Regions from separate parts of the Homo sapiens genome. Here region 1 is linked to region 2. Evidence: fine-mapped expression QTL. Tissue or cell type: monocytes after interferon gamma. Region 2 holds a variant in brackets; the other region holds the start of a gene. All regions are shown on one strand. Distances are between the middles of the regions.

Evidence for each region. PIP is the estimated chance that this variant, and not a neighbour inherited with it, causes the effect.
Region 1: ANXA2 starts here. The variant in region 2 is fine-mapped to the expression of ANXA2 in monocytes after interferon gamma (Fairfax 2014, PIP 0.95).

Annotation. Positions count from the first base shown.
Region 1 is chr15:60,393,110-60,401,210 of GRCh38, forward strand. It overlaps ANXA2 (annexin A2), which reads right to left and starts at 4,877. Exons shown (of 13, transcript NM_004039.3): 1 at 4,834-4,877. RefSeq lists enhancers at 1-829, 3,223-3,814, 3,815-4,406, 3,900-3,949, 4,010-4,059 and 1 more and silencers at 4,430-4,569, 4,640-5,179, 5,300-5,609.
Region 2 is chr15:60,172,000-60,180,104 of GRCh38, forward strand. All of the region lies in intron 1 of LOC105370839 (a long non-coding RNA gene), which reads left to right. Among named protein-coding and RNA genes, the nearest start is that of FOXB1, 170 kb to the left of the region's middle. The variant G/T (reference allele first, on the strand shown) is at 4,460.

The DNA.
Region 1 (8,101 bases), 220 kb after region 2:
TTCCCCAGAATTCCTGGAATTCGGCCCAGTGACCTCGATCAAACTGAGCAGGAGGGACACACAGCACTTGCTCCAGCTTGTCTCTTCTGTGGCCTGATCTGAATCAATATTTGTTTGCTCCCTACTGACTTGTTGCAGCTTCATGCTCTCACAGCCTCTCTCTGCTGGTATCCTGATCTGGGGTTGGAGTGGGTGGAAAGAGACCGGCAGGAAGAATGATGTCACTTGGCATGAAGCACTTTCAGGGTTGGGAAATCCAGGCCTTCAAGTCTGCAACTCAATTTCAGTGTTTTATGGCCCACATATTGTATTTTCAACAGGGCCTGGCCGCCTACAGAAAAAAGTCTAATGTCAGCATTCAAGACCTTCCACACTGTGGACTTACCTACCTTTCCTTAAATATCTTCTATACACACACACATGCATACACGCATCCTGCACAGAAGAGTTAACTGGACTGTTAACTCTTCTCCAAACACGCTCAGCACTTTCTAAGTTCCCTCCACCAGGAACCTCAATCTTAATTAGCTGACATCTGAATGAGTCTTTAGGATACAGGAAATCATAAATGCCGCCTTTCTCACACACCCCTCCTTGCCCTGTGCTTCTGCAGCTTTTTGTGTGTCTGTGCAACATTAGAGTTACATGTGTAAAGTCTGTCTTCCGTATTATCCGCCCACAGGGTTTCCAACTTAACTCCCTCCTGTTTCCTCATAGGTCTGAGCACAGTGCCTGGCACACGATAGGCATTCAATTTCATCTTGGGATGGTTTACACACACTGGGTCTTTCTATATTAGAAAGTCTTTTTTTCTTCTTTTCCAACACACTCTCCTTCCTCAATTTTCTCTCTCCCTCAGACTGGACATTTCGAATGCAGTTCCAGTTCCGTGCATTCAGAGTTGGAGGCTTAAATCACCAACTTCTGCAAATCTTAGCAAAGCCCAGCAGGTCGCTTCAGGGCAGCCTCTTATCAACATATAGCCATGCCCCCCACCTCTGTGCTGTCAGGGATACTTGGACCCTAGCTCTGTCCATAGGACCACATGGGAACGTAACCTACAACTCCTAGCAAGAAGGCAGCAAAGAGGCAGGATGTACGAGTGGCCTTAGGACTCTGATTTCCTCTGAGCTGTGAGTGTATAGCCTGGGTGTGGCAGGGAGACAAAGGACATGGACAAAGGGCTCCATAACACAGTCACTCCCTAGAATAAGAAATTTCTACACCACACCTGGGGTAAAACTCAGGCCACTTGGGTGCTACCGACCTGTCCAGTTGAGCTCAGCTGGATTAAAAGCTTCAGGGTGGGCCAGGCATAGTGGCTCACGCCTGTAATCCCAGCAGTTTGGGAAGCCGAGACAGGCGGATCACTTGAGCTCAACAGTTCCAGACCAGCCTGGCCAACATGATGAAACCCTGTCTCTACTAAAAATACAAAGATTAGCCCGGCATGGTGGTAGGCACCTGTAATCCCAGCTACTCGGGAGGGTGAGGCTGGAGAATCACTTGAACCTGGGAGGCGGAGGCTACAGTGAGGAGAGATCGTGCGACTACACTCCAGGCTGGGTGACAGAGCCAGGCTCCATCTCAAAAGAAAAAAAAAAGAAAAAAAAAAACAGCTTCAGGGTGTACCCTAGAAGGGAGATTTGGAAGTCATCTGGTAGAACCACCCAGAAGGACAAATATGGGCATCTCCTGACCCCTACTGCTGACCTGTCCCTGGAGAAAGTAGATGAGGACTGCCTCTGGCAACAGCAGAAGAAAAAAGATACCAGGCAGTGAATGGGTGGAAAGAATTTTTTTGAAGGACTGGAATTTCCTCTGGTGTGGCCTACAACTAGAATAGGGTGTGGCACCAGGGCAAGTGAAGAGGATTCTCATGTGAAAAAAAAGAGGAACATTCCATTTCTATTTAATTCTCACAATTGAATCTGGAAGGCAGCTTAAGACACCATAATTTTAAGCAAAACTTCCCCGAGGTAGGTAAAATGTGAAGTTTAGGTCTGTGGAACAGCTGGATTAAAGGGGAAATGAACTCCCACCAAGTTTAGAAACTAGTATTAATTTGGGAAAATATAAAGTTTAAAATCCAACAATTCACTTATTTTGTCTCTTTTCCTTCTCTCTCCGCCAGATTTAAGGTCTAAAGAGCAGGGATTTTATTTTTGGCGGGGGTCTGTTTTGTTCACTGCTGTATCCCTAGTGCTCATAACTATGAGTGGAACACAGTAGGTAATTAATATTTTGTGGAATAAATGGTTGTTTAAAGCAGCCCACTAGAGCCTGAGACTCCTTTTGTGACAATCCCGCTCTCCTTTAATGAAAAATGTCTCCGCAGGCTCCAGGCTCTGCACAAGCGAAGGGTGAGAACAAAGGCTCCAGACAATGCATTAGTGCCAGATTCTAGGCCCAGTGGTGTAGGAAGAGCCTACAGCCCTCAAAATCAATAGCAATTATAGAAGCACATCTACTTTGCCAGGAAAACTACTTAAATCAGAAATTAGCCAGGAAACTAACGGCCATGACTGCGAGCCTAATGTCAATCAATACCATAGTTTAATAGCTCAAAGACACAAGATGCTAAATATTGAGACTCCAGTGCAAGACTGAGCTCCTAATCAAAGTCAGTGAGTCAGCAATATTTCCTGGGCATTTACCACAGGCAGTCTAGTTGGCACTGCGGGAAATTACAAAATCTAAACGGTCTCCAAATCACAAACCTCCAATTGTAAAAATGCACATACATGTCACATCCTTCCACTGCAGATGCAAGGGACATTTTTGGACAAACCCTTGACCTTTAGATAATCGACAGACTTGGAAGAAGGGAAGAAATTACTAAGCAGGACTGTGTTAACACTCCTGGCCCTTGCCCATCAAGGGCACCTCTGCTGCCCCAGTCTTACCAAAAATCTTCCTTAATATTGCCTGAATATTGCTGCTTTACATTCTATAAATTATAGATCTGTTTAGGTGAACGAGGGTTTTTTATTATTATTATGTATTTATTTTTTGAGACTGGGTCTTGCTATGTTGCTCACATTGGCCTTGGACTCAAGAGATCCACTAGCTTGAGCAGCTGGGACTACAGGCCCACGACCACGCCCAGTATCGTTGTTTTTTAAATAACAAGACTCCTCTCGGTTGCTGAGGCTCTTAGGACCACCAACCATTCCTAACTTAATGAATATCGATTCAATCTGCTAGTCTCTAGCTGGATGCAGGTCCGCCGAAATGGGAAGGAGGAAGGAATGCAGCGTAACTGGACCGGCCTGGATGGCTGTTGTAATGCGTCACGGAAGAGCCAGAAGAGCGTCTCTAAGGAGGTGGAAGGTGGAAAAAAGAAAGTGGAACAGGGGCAAAGACATAATTTTCCAATTAAAATAATTTACTCAGTGTCAACCTTAAAGCTAAAAAAAGTTCCAGAAAAATATTTCAGTGATTTAGTCTTCCTACACACACATTGCCCCTCACTACCCTCCACCTCCCCACCACCAATCCCATAATCAGGCAGTGCATGTTAAAAAGGTCTTTCAGGGCTAGCCTGGGAACGTCAGCACCTTCTGCAACACTGTTTCAGTGGGAAAGTGCATTCTGCATTCCAAGTCACCAAGTTCCAGACAGGCACAGTAGCACACACGTGTGAACAGAATCCATCAGTACAGTCTGGGGCCCAGGCCTTTGCACACCAACAACTTAAGGTTCTTGGTAATGGCCCAGCGTGCACCCATGAGGCCACTGCTCTTTTACACACGCACTCAGAACACCCACAGCTTTAAAACGGCAATCTTACTACAAAAATGACACTTTGCATTTGCACAGCACTTTGTTTTTTGTGTACTTTACACATTTATTACCTAATGACTGTGTTTTTTGAAATCTCCAATAACTCTGGGTGGTGGTAAGAATAGGCATCCTTAAGCCACCTTCCCAGATGAGGAAACTTATCTGTGTTCCCCTCCTTCTTCTCAACAGCCGGCTGATGGAACCCAAGCCCTCCACACCAGCAGTGGGGCCAGCTGCACAGAGCGGCCAGAAGGGAGAGGCCCCGGGGCCACGCCCTTCTCTCTACTCTCAGTTCCTGACTCATTGTCACATCATGGCGAGTAACAGGACAACCCTCCCCACAGAATCATGGGGGACACTACCTTCCTGAGGCCAATGTGTTCAACCAAGCGGGAAACTCTCCGGGTAGAGTGAAATCCGAAGTTGCTATGCTACAAGATAACCTAGAGCAAGGGGAATAACTGACGTTTTAATGTCTTCTTTTATGGGGGGCTGAGGGGTGCCTACTCACACTCCCCCCTCTCGTCTTCCCCCGCTACTTCCCTCCTGCTGGTCGGTTCAACTCCACAAGCGCGCGTTTGTTTCGAGTACAGTAACTTAGAGCAGATGGGGGGCACTTTCTAGAGGGCAGTGGAAAGCCCACTTGCTACTGCTGCGCCGGGGACCTGCGGCTCCCTGGGCGGCCACGCCCTGCCTCGGCGGCGCCTGGCGCGTCTGGAATGCGGGGCCTCCCTCCGCCCCTCTCCCCACGCCGCCTCGCCCCGCTCCCGCTAGGGCTTCTTAGAGAAGCCCGACCCCCCACCACCTCTGCCCTGCACCCTCCCGGCCCGAGGGCCGGTGGCCCCTCACCCCTGCCCCAAACACCTTGTCCCTGAGCCCCCTCCCCAAAGACTCTCCAGTGCCGGCCGTCCCTTCAGCCCCCTGCCCCCGACGGCCTCCGGGGCCAGTTGCCGGGGCCTCCCTGCCAGGCCGTACCCTTCTTCCCAGCGTCTCCACACCCCGCTAGCTGGCGGCCCATCGCGGGCGGGCAGGGCGCGCCCCGCTTACCTGGGCCGTGCGCCGAGAGCTGAGAGCGTCCCCAAATGCTGAGCAGAGCCGGCTGGCCTGGGTGGGGCTTTTATACCCGCCACATCCTCCCTAGGCGAGGCGAGGCCCGCCCCGCCCCGCCCCGCCTCCCCCTTACACGGCCCGCTCCCACCCCAAGTCAGGGGTGACTCACCCCGGCCCGCCGGCCCGCAGGGACCGCGCCCTGGAACGCTCCCGAGCCGCGCCACGCGGGAGCGGCCCCAGCGCCCCTGGCCCTGCCCTCCGAGAAAGCCCGGCCGAGGCTGCCCCGAGGCCCACAGGGACCCCGTTTCTTCCTCCTTTCCTCATTTTACTTCTTAAGTGCCACGTCGAGCTCTCAGCCTCGGCTTGGGTTAATAAATTAACAAGACTTTAGTAGTAGACTCTGGGCTTGATTAAGTGTTTTTTTTTTTTTTTTTTTTTTTTTGGCGTTAATGCAATGGAGGAAAGAATTGTTCCAAGAAACATAAATCTGGACTCCCCTGAGCTGGGGCTGTTGGCATCCAGCGCCCCATTACCGTCTGCAAACATGTCAGCTTAACCTCTGGCCGCCAGTTCCCGGGGGGCGCCCGGGGAGGGAGGGAGATTCGCCCTGTGCTGCAAAGCCTGGCCCGCCCCGGCCTCCGAGGGCCAGGAAGCCCCGAGCCTGGGCTGGGAGGCCAAAGCCGGGAGCCAGGATCCCACCTCAGTCCCGCCCAGGGTGGCGCCCCTGTCCCTAGCACGGCTGTGCTCCGCTTCTCTCCGCGCCTGGGGCATCTCTGCGCGGCCTCGTAGCAGGCAGTCCTGAGCGGGGTGGGGCCCATAGCTTTGAACCCGGAGTTTCGTGTGTGTGTGTGTGTGTGTGTGTGTGTGTGTGTGTGTGTGTGTGTGTGTGTTTCGAACCCGGAGTTTCAACAAAGAACTTTCCTCTCCTTCTTTCATGACTGCTGGGGTGTGTGTGTGCGTGTGTGGTGTGTGTGTGTGTGTGTGTGTGTTTCTTGCAGCCGTTTAGCCAACTCCCTTGCTCGGTGTTGCTGTTACTCGCTTTTCTTCCGAGAGAGAGAGAGAGAGAGAGAGAGAGAGAGTTTCTTGCAGCACAGAGAGAGAGAGAGAGAGTGAGATAGAGAGTTTCTTGCAGCCAGTTAGCCAACTCCCTTGCTCGGTTTTGCTGTTTCTCACTTTTCTTCCGTGTGTGTGTGTGTGTGTGTGTGTTTCTTGCAGCCGTTTAGCCAACTCTCTTGCTCGGTTTTGCTGTTTCTCGCTTTTCTTCCGTGTGTGTGTGTGTGTGTGTGTGTGTGTGTGTGTTTCTTGCAGCCGTTTAGCCAACTCCCTTGCTCGGTTTTGCTGCTTCTCGCTTTTCTTCCAAGAGTCACGTTGGCAACGTGCAGGCAGACACCTATTTGTTGTATGTGAGACGACGCAAATACTGTATTCGAACCTCAAACTAACAGGAAAGCGACGCTGAGAATCCCGAGGATCTCTGGCTGCGTTTTTTAAACCCCTCCTTGCACACTACTTCCTGCAGCTCTTTTTCCTGGTTTTGATGATTCTGTGTTTCAATCTCCCATTTATCTTAACATCCATTTTTACTTTCCATTTGAGCGTCAATTCACTCCTGGGAATCAGAGAATGATAGCAAGGCCAACAGACATTCAGTGCTCTGCCCACTCGCATAGAGTGACACAGGCAAAGTCGGCCACAGCTGAGGTCTTTTAACCCGCCCAAAGCTTTCTGTTACCCAGCGCTTTCACGAGGAATTATACGCGATGGGCCCTACCACAGAGCCAAATAGAAAATCAAGCAACACTTTGGGTACAATTGCTGATTTACATTTATAGCTCTTCAATTTAGCCTGAAAGCTTCAAAGTCAGAAACAATGTTTATCTGCTTACTTTGTGTGAACATTTTGGAAGGTTAGGGGAACACAGGCAGACAGTAATATTGGGCACGATTCAGCCTCCCTTCTGTGTATCTCAAGATAGGTTCCACAGTCTCTTACTCCTAATCGTGCTGTGATAGGCCCTTTACAGAAGATAAAATTTAATTCAAATCATGTGGAATATATAAAAGCCATCAAATGTCCAAAAGAGTTTTGTGCTCATCTTGGGCATGCCACAAATTCTAACTTCTATAGATTTGTACAATCACCAGTCTTTGCATCATGCTAAAGAAATGTGCACTGATGTTATCATAAAAATGAAGCTATTAGAAGTCATAGTTTGCTATTTCTGAGGAATGTGAGGCCAGTTCTTCCAGTATAAAAGATCTTTTATTAGTCAGAAGACTCTATTTTCCCCCCTGGTTGAGGAGAATGTTTACATCAGCCCTCAGATTGTCTGCTGTTGTCCATATTGCTCTCTAAGTGCTTGACTTTGTTTTGTTCACACTTCATCTGCTGCACTCAACACCTACTAGCGCCTAGCTAGCAATGATAGGCACTCACTAAATGTGATAGAATGATAAAATACAATTATTCACTGAATAATAGAATGTTAAAGCAGGGAGGGACCCTAGAGATTAAATTGCCCTATCCTTGATTTTTACTATTATTATTCTTATATCTTTTAGTTGAGATCTCACACTGTCACCCAGGCTGGAACGCATGGCATGATTAGGGCTCACCGCAGCCTTGACTGCGGAGGCTCAAGAAATCCTCTCCTCTCAGCCTCTTGAGTAGCTGGGACCACAGGCCCACGCCACCAAGCCTGGCTAATTTTTCTATTATTTGTAGAGACGACAAAGTCTTGCTATGCTGCTCAGGCTGGTCCCGAACTTCTGGGCTCAAGTGATCTGCCTACCTTAGCCTCCCAAAGTTCTAGGATTACAGGCGTGAATTACTATACCCGGCTCTTGATTTTTACATATGAAGAAATTGGAGTCCAAATAAAATCTCCTGCCCAGTCCAGGGATTAAATAATGCACCCAAGGCCCTCGTATCAGTTACCTTTGCAGTATAACAAATTATCCCCATAAACTTAGTGGTTAAACATAACCATTTACTTGCTTGTAATTCTGCAATTTAAGCAGGACACCCAGTGGGGACAGCTTGGTGCTCCTCCACAGCATGTTGGGTTGGGTAGCTTAGTTGGGGTTGGAAGATTGAAAGCAGCTTCATTCGTCTGGCGCCTGAGCTGGGATTGCTAGAATGACAAAGAGCAGGCTGGGCCTTTCTCTTCCTTGGTCTTACATCCTCCAGGTTCTCCTCTTTTGCTACACCACGGTAGTCATGGCAGCCAGCCTTCTAGAAGCAAAAGCTGAAGCTGCCAGGCCT
Region 2 (8,105 bases):
CTCTTTTCAACATAGCTGTGAATATCAATGACAGTGTTTAACACATATACATAAAGAAGGTCTATGTAGGGAAACCAGAGTTTGGATGGAATTCAACCAAAAGACACCCCCACTTGGTTTCAGGACCCTCCCTTCTAAGGAGCCAATTTCCAATAGAAAGCAACCAAACTTTAAAAAAAAATCATAGAGTAACCCATTAAATATTTCACAGAAACTCATTAAAACATTTTACTATTTGCTCTGATTATCATGTGGCTGCTTATACAGATGCCCATAAATCTGACTGCATTAGGTTCTCAGGCCTTTATTTCAGTTAATTTCTTCTCCCTATGTGGACTTGCCCAGGAAATGAGATTTAATGAGTCATCGTCCTCCCTGATAATCACAGGAGAGCTCATTAGCTTTTTGTCAGATTTGTACCAACTATCTGCCCCCAATATGCCTATGACTTCTTTTGAGTTAAATATGATATTACCAAAAGGGAGAACTGAAAAGAGCATTTCTGTACTGAATGCTGCAGACTTGAAACACTATATAAATATTTTTACATATGTTAAAAGGCATCTGAGAGCAAAAGGTAAGAAAATAACAAAAATACAACATTCCCTATTGATGGCATCACTATTTAGATGACACACATCATTAAAAAGAAATAAAGTTTGACATTTACATGTTTGGAAGTCTTTCTAAATCTGTTTAAATGCCTGAGCTGAGTCAATGCAAATGCAAGTTCAAAGAACAGAAGAAAACAATCTAATGGTTCTTAAAATTCGTGAAGTTTGAGGAGTTCTCCATCATGTATGTTAGGATACTTCACCAAGGTCTCCCAATCTCCTGACCTTCCGTTTTCACTGGAAATAACAAAAGGCTCTCATGTCACTTCATGGGAAAGGGGAAATTTTTACACTTCCCCCAAAGAAAAGCTTGAAGTAAACCTTCCATACTTTCATGGACCACCTTAGTGATAAAGTTGACTTGGCTTTCAGTAAAATTGCCCATAAAGGAAGATATGACAGTGATGGTAAAAACATCAGAGTGATTTTCTGAATTCTCATTTGAGTCCCTCAAGAGGTTACCATTTCCCTTCTAGGTACAGACAGAGTTACCTGGGCAAAGGTGTTGCTCCTGCATGGCTGAGTGACCACCACGGACCAGGGCCCAGCTCTTCATCAACATTTATTGAACGTTTGCAATCTACTTATCTGACAAAGGGCTAATATCCAGAATCTACAATGAACTCAAACAAATTTACAAGAAAAAAACCCCATCAAAAAGTGGGCAAAGGATATGAACAGACACTTCTCAAAAGAAGACATTTATGCAGCCAAAAGACACATGAAAAAATGCTCATCATCACTGGCCATCAGAGAAATGCAAATCAAAACCACAATGAGATACCACCTCACAGCAGTTAGAATGGCGATCATTAAAAAGTCAGGAAACAACAGATGCTGGAGAGGATGTGGAGGAACAGGAACACTTTTACACCGTTGGTGGGACTGTAACCTAGTTCAACCACTGTGGAAGACAGTGTGGCGGTTCCTTAAGGATCTAGAACTAGAAATACCGTTTGACCCAGCCATCCCATTACTGGGTATATACCCAAAGGATTATAAATCATGCCGCTATAAAGACACATGCACACATATGTTTATTGTGGCACTATTCACAATAGCAAAGACTTGGAACCAACCCAAACGTCCGTCAGTGATAGACTGGATCAAGAAAATGTGGCACATATACACCATGGAATACTATGCAGCCATAAAAAAGGATGAGTTCATGTCCTTTGCAGGGACATGGATAAAGCTGGAAACCATCATTCTCAGCAAACTATCACAGCGACAAAAAACCAAACACCGCATATTCTCACTCATAGGTGGGAATTGAACAACGAGAACACTTGGACACAGGAAGGGGAACATCACACACTGGGGCCTGTTGTGGGGTAGGGGTAGGGGGGAGGGATACCAATAGGAGAAATACCTAATGTAAATGATGAGTTAATGGGTACAACACACCAACAGGGCACATGTTTACATATGTAACAAACCTGCACATTGTACACATGTACCCTCGAACTTAAAGTATAATAAAAATAATAATAAAAATAAATATTTATTGAACTAACCAGGGGCCATAGAGCCTATCTGGAATGCATAAGATTATGCAGCTCTATAGTCCTTAGATTGAAACAAAGTCCTAGATTCAAACATCAGTGCTTCTGAACACTTTTTGGGTGGCATATCTTTTTCAGAATCTGATGGTAAAAATGGACTTTTGCTCAAGAAAAATGCACCACTCCACTACAAATGCACATACACACAAAATTTGGGGGACAGTTTCAGAGAGTTCTCAAACACTGCAATCTTATTTCTAGCCTTGCTTGGGGTTCCTGGACCTAAGATTAATCCTCTTATACAGATGACAATATCAAGGAATGTAATTAAAACTACTACTCATTGAGAACTTACTACATATCAGGCAATATTATCTCATTACACTCCCACAACAACCCTAAGAGGTACATCTGTTATTAACCACATTTTACGTATGAGGAAACTAGACAAAGATTTAAATTATAACAGCTTGTCAGAGGCAGAGCTGGAGCTTCAAACTCAGTGCGCCTCTGGCGTCTGTGCTCTGAGCCTCTAGAGTCTGCTGCCTGTCCTATAAAACATATTTTTATTCTAAAGCATGTTCACTTCTGCTTTCTCATTTAATCTTTGTAACTACCCTATAGTTACAAAGATTAGATTGTGATCTGATCTACCTAAGCTAATTCTAGGAGTTAGATTAAGTAGATATCTCCACTTTAGTAGGTGTTGAGGGCATTTCCAAAGTAGAGCGAGAGATTTGCTACCCACAGTCTTTTCAGACAACGAAGTCACAGTTGATGAAATTAAAAATTAAAAACCAAAATTCTGACTTGAGCCTTCTTTCTCCATTCACTACAGGTTTAAGCACTCTAGGAACACCATCTAATTTCTTTATTCATAGCCATCCACTGCCTTGAGGACTAAGTCAGCACGGTAAGGTTTTGAAGCCATGTGGTGATTCCTACAAAAACCTGGCTTCCTGTGGTTCGCAGAGCACAGTTTTGTTTCTACAAAGGCAAAGGCATAGGGAAGAACAGACAGAGGAGAAAAGTTGTCAATCTGCAGAATATAAGAATGTTTAATGTGCATATGATCATGCTGGACATTAGATGCATGGCCTTGTCTTTATATAGAACCCCAAATCTAGTTGAAATGTTAAAATATTTTTAAAACATTTAACCCTTCCCTTACCTGAACTCTACCTAGCATTCCTCAGTGCTCAGCTGTTCCCATTCCTCAGTGAATTTCTCCCTCCTGAAAACCTCTATCAGCTTGTACTGCCCATTCTGCACAAACATTCAATGTCAGTCATTTGTCCTGGCTTTCTGCTCCAGTGAAATGGCAGACTGCACAAACACAGCTTCAATTTACTTCTAAAAGCGCAGAGAAATACAGGGGGAAATGTAGCAAAAAGTTTCTGAAACAGAACCAAACTTGTAAGAAAAAATGAGAAAGAGAGAATAAAATAGAAATTCCCAGGTACAAGAAATGAGGAGGAACAACAGCCAGAGCTGCCATGGTGTCATCTGTGAACTCACGCTCTGGGGACTCAGCAAGGTGTGGGTCTAGATTTGGGCCATAAAGACCAGGGGCTGGGGTTGAAACACCCATTCAGCAACAGGAGAGGTGGAGAAGGCCTACGCAAGGTGGGGAATTAGAACTGACAACCGGCTATGAAATCAAGATCCTAGAAGGCACAGCAAAAAGGGAAGAGAAAGGAACTTTGTCTTTTCCCAGATCCAAGTGGTAAAGAAAGTCAGTTATGGGAAATCAAACCCCCAAGTCTATTTGACCATGCAGGTGTAGGGTCTAAACTCACATTATCCACCTGTAAGGAAATCTCAGTGAAGAAATTAAAGTAAAAACTGGATGCATACCAATAAAACCACTGAGATGCCCATCATAAGAAATGTAAAACTACTCTGTAGAAACATTTTCACAACCCCAGGAGCATGGAACATCCCCAAGATGGAGAAAACTCCTGCTAAGCTAATACTTAAAAGAAAAAAATTACAAATCACAAAAGAAAATAATTCTCTATAAGAAAGAGTAAGCAGATATAACAAACAGGAAGGTAATACACTAATAACTTAAGATAATAGAACAATCTGAAACCAGCAATAAAAATAAGTATATTTAAAATAAGTAGGCCAGGCATGGTGGCTCACACCTGTAATCGCAGCACTCTGGGAGGCCAAGGTGGGAGGATCACTTGAGTCTAGGAGTTTGAGACCAGCGTGGTCAGAATAGTGAGATCCTGTCTCTACAAAAAATTTTAAAAATTAGTCTGGTGTGGTGACACATGACTGTAGTCCCAGCTACTCGGGAGGATGAGGTGGGAGGATAACTTGAGCCTGGGA[G/T]GTTGAGGCTGCAGTGGGCTGCGACTGAACCACTACACTCCAGCCCGGGTGAAAGACCAAGGTCCTATCTCCGAAAAATTAAAAATAAAATAACTAAAGATATTAAAGAAAGATTTGAAGCCACGATACAAGAACAAGACACCCTATAATAAAAAATACATTTGGAAACAAATCATGTCATACTTTTGGAAATTGATAAAACACAGTGAATTTAAAACTAAATAAATAATGTATTAGTTTCTTAGGGCTGCCATGACAAAGTGCCACAAATTGGGTGGCTTAGAACAACAGAAATGTATTGCCAGAAATGTACTTTTAGACGCTTTTTTAAACCCAAAATCAAGATGTTAGCAGGGTCTTGCTCCCTCCCTCTGAAACTTGAAAGGAGAAGTTCCTTCCTTGTCTCTTGCAGCTTCTTCTAGCCCCCGGAGTTCCTTGGCTTGTTGCAGCAAAGCTCCAATCTTCACATGGCATTCTCCCTATGCCTCTTCACATAGTCCTCCCTCTGGGCATGCCTCTGTGTCCAAATTATCCCTTTTTATAAGGACACAAGTCATAGTAGATTAGGGCCACCTTAACGACCTCATTTTAATTTGATTACCTCTGCAACAATCCTATCTCCAAATAAGGCCACATTCTGAGATACTAAGATTAGGACTTAAATGTAACATTTTTGGAGGACACAATTCAATCCATAACATAACAGATACAACAGAAGAGAATCGATGAAAGGAAAGATAAATCAGGGAATTAACCACAATGCAGCATAGAAAAATTGATAGGAAATATAAAAGCTAAAAGTTATGCAGAATAGAATAAAAAGATTCAATATACGTTTCTTAGGAGTTCCAAAAGGAAGGAGTAAAAAGGATGAAAGAGAAGCAATATTCAGTGAGATCATGGGTGAGATTTTCCAGAATTTATGAAAACAGATCCGTAGATTTAGGAAACACAGAAAGTAAAGCAGGGCAAAGAAAAATCCACAGCTATATACATCCTAATGAAACTGCAGATCTTCAAAAATAAAATCTTAAACAAAGACAGATGAACTATAAAGATTAGGTTGGTGACAGATTTTTCTTTTTTTCTTTTTTTTTTTTTTTTTTTTTTGAGACGGAGTCTCAGTTTTGTTGCCCAGGTTAGAGTGCAATGGCGCAATCTCGGCTCACTGCAACCTCTGCCTCCCAGGTTCAAGCGATTGTCCTGCCTCAGCCTCCCAAGTAGCTGGGATTACAGGTGCCCGTCACCACACCCAGCTAATTTTGTATTTTTAGTAGAGACGGGGTTTCACCATGTTGGTCAGGCTGGTCTTGAACTCCCGACCTCAGGTAATCTGCCTGCCTCAGCCTCCCAAAGTGCTGGGATTACAGGTGTGAGCCACCGTGCCTGGCTGGCAGATTTGTCATCACCAAAATTAAAAACTAAAACAAGAGTAATCAGTGCTGGTAGAAATCTGGATAGTGTTTAACTGCTGGGGGACTAGCGGCTGGCAGGGGCCATGAGGGAGCTTCTAGGGTGCTGGCCATGTTTAGTTTCTTGACCTAGTTCTGATTACATTTCCTTGTTGATTACATGTGCTCATTACGTGTATCCATGATGGGTGTGCTTTTTCTATATGAATGCCATAATCCAATGAAGATTTTTTTTAAAAAGAGAGACCAGAAGACAAAGGAATAATGCCTTCAAAGTGCTGAGGAGAAAATAAGTCAGCAAAATTATCACTCAGGTAGATTGACAAGGTAAAGATATTACAATCAGATAAAGATTGTGAGACATTACTGTTCACCACCTTTGCTGAAAGAACCGCTAAAGGATGTATTGTAGGAGGAAGACAATTGAACCCAGAATGAAGGAATAGCATTGCAAGGAGCAATAGTGAGGCAAGAAATTGTGAGGCAAATCTAAAAAAAATACTCACTGAAAAATAGTAAAGATGACAAAGTTTTAACCAAGGAAGAATCAAAATCCTAGGGGAAAAATATCCAAGATGGTGAGAGAGACCTTTGGGTACAAAGTTTCTTGTATTATTTGAGAGAAGGGAAGAAGTATTGAATTTCAACTCTAAGTATATGTGTTAAAAATTGAATGGCCACTAAAAAGTAAGAAGTAGATATATAACTTTCAAAGCAGTATGAGGGGGGTGGGGCATAAAGAAAATTCAGTCTATCTAAGGGAAGCCAGTGAAGGAGGAAAAAAAAAAAAAAGCCAAGAAAAGTTGTTGAATAAAAAGTCCAAAGAAATTATGGCTTAAATCATGAATGGACCAAGCTAGTCAATTAAGAATAGATATTCTTAACTTTTTCTTTTAGAGGCAGGGTCTTGCTCTGTCACCTGGGCTGCAGTGCAAGTGGTACAATCATAGCTTGCTGCAGCCTTCAACTCTTGGGCTCAAGTGATCCTCCCACCTCAGCTTCACAAGTAGTTGGGACCACAGGCACAAGCGCCAGTGGCTGGTTAATTTTTTAAATGTTCTTTTTTTTTTTTTTTCGTAGAAATGAGATCTTACTATATTGCCCAGGCTAGCCATGCTAGCTTTCCTCCATCTGTCTCCCCCTCCTCAGGCTTTCCTATTTCCTGGCTTCAACCAATCCCCCTGCCTTGGACTCCAGAAGTGCTAGGATTACAGGTGTGAGCCACCACACTTGGCCTCTTAAATTTATAATAATTTAGTTATATGCTGTTTATAAGAGACAAGTATGAAATACAATGACACAAATAAGTTGAAAAGAAATGATTGGAAAAACATGTATGAGTCAAATCTAATCCAAAGAAAGTTTTTAAAGACTAAGATTAGAAAAAAAAAAAAAAAATAAGGGGAAAAATTCTTATTAGAAGAAGAGTCATTAGTATATGAGGAAAAAAAAGGACCAATTCACCAAGAAGATATAACAATCATGAGATTGAAAGAACCAAAGAACATTGCCTCAATCTATATGAAGCAAAAAATTTAGCTGAATTACAAGGAGAAATTGATCAATTCTCCACAGTGCTGGGAGATTTTAACATTGGTGCTTTAAATCTGATGAGTCTACATTTCATCTCCACAATCAAACTGTAAGGTTCTTGAGGTCAGAGTGCGTGTCTTATGCCATGTTCCCCCAATATATGAGATGCATTTCCCCTCCCTCCCAAAGTATCTGAACATATAAATGTCCCCGCTCATATAAATGGTTAAAAGACAGTGCGCTATAGGCAAGTGCAAAGCACAGAAAGTATGTACTAATAATTTATTACTGATAGTAGACACTTTTTGTAACAAGTAAGACTATTACAAGTAGAATAATTAATGAAGACATAAAATAATGGAGTCAAGAGAGAGAAAAGAAAATTGTCCCTATACTTCTTTTGAAGCATTTATGAGACACCAGGTTCATTTCTTAAATTATTCAAACTACTGTATAAACTAATTGGAAGATCATGTATATTCATTTTAAATGGGAAAAAAATGGACCTAGAAAGAATTTTAAAAGTGCAAACAGAATTTGCATTTGGTGGATATAAGACAGTAGCAATGATACTACCCCCTAGTGGCAGAGCATAGCAACCCCAACAGGATAATGAAGGTATGTGTTGTATATCCCATGGGTCATTTTCCTAACAAAAGTATTAAGCTGTAAGAAGTATTCTGTAGATCATAAAGTTGATT